Linked DNA regions of Homo sapiens. The protein of the gene in region 2 purifies or fractionates together with the protein of the main gene of each other region. This does not show direct contact. Each region holds a gene or a part of one and is shown on either strand. Other genes may lie near its edges.

Region 1 (3,862 bases), on a different chromosome or scaffold from region 2:
AGGCCACAACAAACTCTGCCCCTGAGGAACTGACATTTAACTCTCAGCCTTCTAGTTACTATAAAGGACCAGGAGCCTCAGGCCAGGCTCTTCCTAGTTCCTTAGAGACGAGCCCCAGGGAAAGGAGAACTATAGCACTGTTAGAGTTCCTGGGGCAACTGAAGAAGGAGATGAAAGTATCAGGATGTCCCGAACAGGTCTGCTCCCAAACCTGGTGGAGCAAAAGAATCTACCAGGCAGATTTTTTAAAAATGCAGATCCTCAGAAATAAAAAGGAATGAACTACTGACATACACAACATAGGAAAATTTCAAAACAAGTATTCTGAGTGGAAGAAGCCAGACAAAAACAAGTATAAACTGCATGACTGTTCTCATGCAAGCTCTAGAAAATGCAAACTAAGCTACAATGACAGGAAGCAGATCAGTGGGATTGAGGGGAGGGATGGGGGGAGGTATCACAAAGGGGCAGCAGGGACCTTTTAGGATGATGATATATTTGCTGTGTCGATTATGGTGATGGTTTCACAGGTGTATACAAACACTGAAATATATCAAATTGTATACTTTAAATATTCTATGTCACTTATACCTCAATAAAAAATTTTTTTTTAAAATAATAAAACGACTCGGGAGGCTGAGGCAGGAGAATCACATGAAGCTGGGAGGCGGAGGTTGCAGTGAGCCAAGATCGCACCACTACACTCCAGCCTGGCAACAGAGTGAGAGTCCATCTCAAAAAAATAAAATAAAACGAAAAAATAAAAGTACAGATTCTCTAGTCCAAATGATTGGGACACAGGAGTATTTGTTTTATAAGCCTGGATGGTAGCCAATCCAAGAATTCCACTATAATTCCAACTCTCATTACTTTTTTAATGCAATGATTTATTAAATAGTGTACTTTTTAAAGCAATTTGGTGATTCTGATGCAAGCAGTGACTGCCAGGTGTTTGGAAATTACTATTCAAGACACCTACAGTGTCTTGGTTTAGGGCTTAAATGGTGAGTTGTTTCATATTAAAAATGAAGTTAGCTGAAAAATAAATGGCACAAAATTATGTCCTGAGGTAGAAAGAAGTCCCTGACATATTGTCAGGTGAAAAAAGAAAAGCAAGCTGTAAAACAGTAAGCAGGAGAAAAATCAATCTATTTCTACATCTACTATTTCTATCCATGTCTTTAACAGCATCTTTTTGAAAAGAGGTATAGAATAGAATGCAGAGACATTCAATATCTATGGATATGCATTTCCTCTCTGTCTAGGGTTATAGAATGATTTTATTTTCATTTTAAGATAATTTTTTTCTAGATGTAGTTTCTAAATTTTCTAGAATGAACATGACTTATTTACATGATAAAATAATCAAAACTGTATTTCAAAAGTCAGGGGCCCCCATTCACATCTATCATTGGTTTAGCTCCAGTTTATTCACTGCTATTCCAAGCATATTGTGATCAGGGGTTAGTGTTGAAACAGCGGTTTCTATCTCCAAAACGGACTTAAAATCACTCTTTATGAAGCAACACAGAAATAAAAAAAATCTAGGACTCAATGAGAAGCAGATGGAGGGGAGGAAACAGGAGGAGGAAAAGAAAGCTGGGGGAGAAGGAAAGGGAGAGAATATATTAACCTGAGACTTGAGGAAGGGAGAGGAGGGAAAAGAAAAATGTCAACCCCAGTAGCTGTTTGTGAACCCACGTATAACACAGTGTGCCCCACCACAGGTATCAAAAGCAACACAAGCACGATGACAAAAACCCAGGACTCTGGGGAAGAAAACCAGATCAGATTTGTAAGCAGGTTGTCTTTCTATTTGGAAAGGGTTTGCATGCCCAGACCTTTCTGATGTTGATTTTACATGAACCCCAAATGCACTCCTGGAATGCCTACCTGGCTCCAGTGTAACATGTTTTGCACAGAAGTTCCAGCAGGAGAATGTGTTGTATATACATCCACTCTAGACTGCAAAATAAATACATTGAAATGAAGAATGAAAACAGCATTAAGGTGGCATTGATAATAAACATTGTATTTTGCCCTTCAAAGCACTAAAAACTAGAGCCATAATCTCAAGTATGTGAGATGAGAGGTAGAAAAAAATTATTTGACTAAAAATCTGCCCTATAAAAATACATACAACCACATACAAAGTCCATATGAAGGAGGTGCAACAACATGGTAAGCACGGGACTGTGTGGGTTTCGTTTACAGGGCATTTTCATTTTGTTCTTCATGCTTTCCTGAATTTCCCAAATTTCATATAACAATCACACCTTGCTTTAATTATCAGACAAAAGAAAAATGGCACTGAAATTCCTTAGGGCCTTTATTCCAGGATTTTAACCCTTTTTTTCAAAATGCCACATGACAAACTAACAAACATATTTAGAAACACGGGCATAGTATTGGCCAAGGGTTTATATTTTATAAAATAAAATGGGTTTACATTTTATAAAATGTACTTTTATAAATACACACACACTGCAAGCATACACTTATGTGTATGTAAATGGCCGTTCCAAATTTAAATACTTATAGTAATTTTTGAAAATTTGTGTATTTTAGATTCGGGGGGTCCATGTGCAGGTTTGTTACAAGGGTGGATTGCATGATGCTGAGATGCGGGCTTCTATTGATCCCATAACCACAGTACTCAATATTGGCTATAGTACTCAACAGGCTTCAGCCCTTGTCCCTCTCCCTCCTTCCTTTTGGAGTCCCCACTGTCTATTGTTCCCATCTTTATGTTTATACTTATAATGATTTCTAAAAGAAACAAATCACTAGAGTAATTATAAATATTACAGCTTAATTTGTGACAGATCTCCTCATTCAATAATCTCCATCTAGGTACAACATAAGAAGGTGACCACAGTCAGCCTGAGGATGGCAGCAGGTGGTACCGTATTCTAGGCATTGGCCAAAGTTCATGCTTGTGCCTCTCAAATGAAAGACTCTTTAGAGTTCTGATGAGGTCATTCCCACCTCTCCCATATCATTCAACACAAATAAGCACATTCACAGATAAAAAAAAAAATCAAATCTTACTATAAACATGCATACCATATTTAAATTTCTCTCATTAAATCCACACAGAAGAAAACAGAGATTTCCACAGAGCTCCTTCAGTATGACATGAGTGCAAACGTGGGTACCCAGCCACTTCAAAAACGCACTCTGGGGAAGAAATTCTTTGTCTCCAAATAAGTCCTACAAAATAAAAAGAAACCCAAGAACATCTCAGCATTTCACTCTGGTGCATAAGTCTCCGTGACTCACCTCAGAAGCAGAGACAAGTACCCAATGTCTCCACGAATGGCCTCAGGAGAGAATGGCAACCAGTGGACATCAAATCAGGATGCTTTTGCACAAGTTTACCAAAGCAAAAATCACACACTACAGAGGTGTATTTAAATTCTCCAAATGAAGAGAAGGAGGCAGAAAATCAAATAAGTTTTCAGCGGACTTCTACAGTGGGAAAGGGCCTTAATGATCACCCCTCCCAGGGCCATCCCCAAGTAATTTTCATCTGACTCTGATGGATCGGTGGTTACTTCTAAGAAACAGTCAAGGCTGTGATTGATCAGTAATGTCTGCCAGAGGTGTGCCCATCTAATTCAATGCTACTGGCCAGCAGGCCAAATCCAGCCCATCGCTTGCTTTTTTATTTTGTTTTTTAAAATTTTTTTTATTGGCCAGGCATGGTAGCTCATGCCTGTAATCCCAGCACTTTGAGAGGCCAAGGCAGAAGGACTGCCTAAGCCTAGGAGATTCCATCTTTCCTATTTAAGTCTTCTAAATGGCCCATGAGAGACGTTATACCTCATTTCATGTATATATTTCTATACAGGATTTCATA
Region 2 (3,862 bases):
CTAGTTCTAAAACCAAAACTTGACAATTCTATACTTAGAAGAATTTTTAAAGCCCCACAAATTATAATACAAGTGATCTACTGTGACTAGACATAGGCTCTGGTCTGAATCAGACCTGGCAGAAATCACAATCTCGGGCCCCAGATCTTTTTGTTTTTAGCTGCAAAACATTTTCTTCAGAGGCAAGCTTGCATTAAATTCAATATGGAAAACAGATCAAAGCAGACAGCTATGGTGGACAGAGTGGGCAGGGGCTTGAAGCTCAGCTCCCCCACCAATCCAGGCAGCCCTCAGAGGGGCTGCCAGAATAGGAAGGGCTTCACAAAACAGGGCTGACTTGATCATTTCATCTGCAATTCAATAACATGAAAGGTTTGTTTTCCTCTGGCTTTCAGGATAGCATTTTCATTTAAGTAAATCTTTTTCTTTTCTTTTTTTTTTTTTTTTTGAGATGGAGTCTCCCTCTATCACCCAGGCTGGAGTGCAATGGTGCGATCTCAGCTCACTGCAACCTCCGCCTCCCAGGTTCCAGCAATTCTCCTGCCTCAGCCTACTGAGTAGCTGGGATTACAGGCGCTGGCCACTACACCCGGATAATTTTTGTATTTTTAGTAGAGACAGGGTTTCACCACATTGGCCAGGCTGGTATTGAACTCCTGACCCCAAGTAATCCACCTGCCTCGGCCTCCCAAAGTGCTGATATTACAGGGGTGAGCTACTGTACCCGGCCCCTTTTAAGTAAATCTTAGGTAAACTGTAAATTAATTCACTAAAATTCTACAGTGTTAGTGGGAAATGACCAAAGTAATTAGAAAAGTATCCTAGGTAAGTCTGCCCTTAGTAAAAAAAACTTCTGCATATTATGAAATAAAAGTCAATGTTTTAAGATTTGAAAAATATCTAAGATAAGGTCTAAAAATGACCATTTGGATTTCAGGCCTATAATTAATTACTGACTGGTATGAATGAAAGAATAAGTTGGTTGGATTTTTTTCAGGTGCTTTCTGGTATCATTTTGTAAGCTTTTTTTCTTTCTTTCTTTCTTTCTGTTTTTTGAGATGGTCTCGCTCTCGCTGTGTTGCCCAGGCTGGAGCGCAGTGGTACAATATTGGCTCACTGCAGTCTTGGCCTCCCAGGTTCAAGTGATCCCACCTCAGCCTCTTAAGTAGCTGGGACCACAGGCAAGCACCACTATACCCAGCTAATTTTTTTTTTTTTTTGGTAGAGATGGGGGAATCTCAATATATTGCCCGAGCTGGTCTTGAACTCTTAGGCTCAAGTGATGCTCCCACCTCAGCCTCCTAAAGTGCTGGAATTACAGTCACGAGCCACAATGCCCACCCTGTACACTTACCTAATATTATAAAATGACTAGTCTTTTTTTTCTCTAAACTACCTTTCTAAAAGTAAACTATACATGAATCTAGAGGTTTAATCTTTCTTCTGGAGTTAAATACTTAGAAGCGAATAACTGAGATTTAAGAGGTTAAAAGAATATTTCTTCTATATGCAATGTTCCATTTCTACTTACATGCACTTACTTGCATCTACTATTTTTAATATTATTAAAGAAAAAGAAAGTTTGCTGTTTCATTTCCTTCCAAGCAATGCATTATGCACTATCCTTTTTTTTTTTCTTCCAAATAGAGACAGGATCTCACTCTGTTGACCAGGCTGGAATGCAATGGCAGGATCATAGCTCCCTCAAACTCCTAGGCTCAAGCAATCCTCCCACCTCAGCCTTCCAATGTGTTGGTATCACAAGCATGAGCCACTGCACCCAGCCGTATCCTTTTTAAAATAAGACACCACTGAGAATCACACTACGTAGAAACCTATGATGCTGAAATCTTGACTCAAAAGTGTTTCACTGTGTTTCTATATGCTTTCTTAAGACTAACCCAGAATAGGCTAAGTGCTATCCCTATTATAAATCTCAAAAAATCCTGTAATAGTACAACTTGGTTGGCCTTGAGCACTATTAAGCATTTCTGAGTATTTCGATCTATAACTACAGACCTTTCACATTCTAATGACTTCTCCCATAGAGCCACATCAAAATGTTGCCTCATGGGTGGATTTTTTACCTTTATGTTATTTGCAAGTTTATTTTTAAAATAATACATATTTCCCCAAGGATTCTGAGCAATAAATATTTAATAACTATTCTGTAAAAGGAATACAGTGATGAACATTAACAGTCCCTGGCCTCACAAAGAATATAGTCATAAAATTCTGAAAGGCCTGCATTGTACTTACAGAGTTTTCAAAAATTATGCACATTATTTATTGATACATTTATTACCCATTATCTTTATAATTATTCATTTAGATACCTATGCATTTACTTCTAATATAATACATTAATTTGGGTTCATTTGCATGTTAAGACTTCTGAAAAATCTTTTGTACTAAGATTATAAAATCCTTAGAACAATAAATTGTGTATTCTATTTATTTCCCCCCTCTCTCTCTCTCTGTATGTAAAAATCCCATAATAGAATTAAATGGTACTCAAGAATAAGGACAAAAAGGGCAATTATAATTCTGACAACTCAATCCCAATTCAGAAGGAAAAAAGGCATACACGAAGCTTTTTGAGACTGAATCAGAATTCTAAATTATTTTAACAGGCTAAAGTTACTCATGATAAAAATTAACTTTTTCATTCATCCAATCATTCAATTAATGTACACTGAATGCCTACTATGTCCTAGATAAGGAGTCCTTTCCTTCACTGACTTTGAAATCTAGTGAATAAAGTCTTGTTTCTATAAAATCCAAAAATTGAACTAGGTGATAAACATTCTTCCCAACCAAAACTCATAATACCTCACTAGTTTAGACAAAAGAATATTGTAAGGAAAAAAAAAATAAATAAGGTTCCTGGGTTTATATTTTTAAAAAAATATAACTTGGGAAAAGAGGAAAAAAAAGGAAAAAAAGTATATATATATAAAAATCTATTGTTTATAGTAAAAACCTATTGTTTATATTTGATAACAGCGTTTATCATTTTGGCAGACAAAATACATATAATTTATAAGTAACAATTGAAAATTCTGAAAAATTTTAGAGTTTAAAAATTAATGGCTTTAAAGCAACTCACTTCCCTTGTCTATAAAAACTCCTGGAAGGATTCTAGAGACTTTGATAAGAACAAACAAGTGCTACCAAGGTATGGTTTATTTCCATTTTTCACTACATATTTGAAATTCTACATATGTTTCATATCATATGTCTTTGCTACAATGGTCCAATTTACGTCTTTGCTACAATGGTCCAATTTATTCAATATGAAAATCCAAAAGAGTTTAAAAATATTTTAGTTATTAAAAAATTTAATTAATGATTCCATGATTCGGGGACTCACTCCAAAATCTGGTTACCTCTGCCACCTAGTGGTATAAGAATTCCCTATCTCACAGTGCTAGGTTTCACAAAATCATAGGGTTTTTTATGTTAAAGTAGCTATAAAATATTTATGTAAGAAAACTGGCAGTGAGGTAGAGTAAGTAATACACACAAGATAAGGCCAGAATCAAGCCTAATTTCTCATTTTGTCTCTTTGTACTATGTTATACTGAGGATATATGATACTTCAGTGCTAATGATATATTATGCGAAATTGAAACAGTCTCTTTCTTACAGAAGCAACAGTGATTTCAAAAACTTGGGGGTGGGGGTGGGGATGAGGGAGGTACTCAAAGTCTTACCCAGGCACTTCAAATCCCATAGTTTGCTTCTTTCCAGATACAGTCATTTTAGCAACTTTTGGCACAATTTCAGATTCACTTCGCGATGTCTGGGAATCTACTGGTTTTCCTAGTTAAGGAGTAAAATATAAAAGGCCAATTAATTT

The links. Proteins that work in one complex are often made in the same cells at the same time.
Region 1: the proteins of HBS1L (region 2) and LIPA purify together in Homo sapiens (affinity purification with mass spectrometry; one large-scale study listed by BioGRID and IntAct). This does not show direct contact.

What each region holds. Positions count from the first base shown.
Region 1 is NC_000010.11:89,220,618-89,224,479, forward strand, and holds part of LIPA (lysosomal acid lipase/cholesteryl ester hydrolase isoform 1 precursor), read right to left. Parts: intron 3,214-3,862; coding exon 3,067-3,213; intron 1,966-3,066; coding exon 1,894-1,965; intron 1-1,893. UniProt on the Homo sapiens protein: Catalyzes the deacylation of cholesteryl ester core lipids of endocytosed low density lipoproteins to generate free fatty acids and cholesterol.
Region 2 is NC_000006.12:134,999,018-135,002,879, forward strand, and holds part of HBS1L (HBS1-like protein), read right to left. Parts: intron 3,826-3,862; coding exon 3,717-3,825; intron 1-3,716. UniProt on the Homo sapiens protein: GTPase component of the Pelota-HBS1L complex, a complex that recognizes stalled ribosomes and triggers the No-Go Decay (NGD) pathway.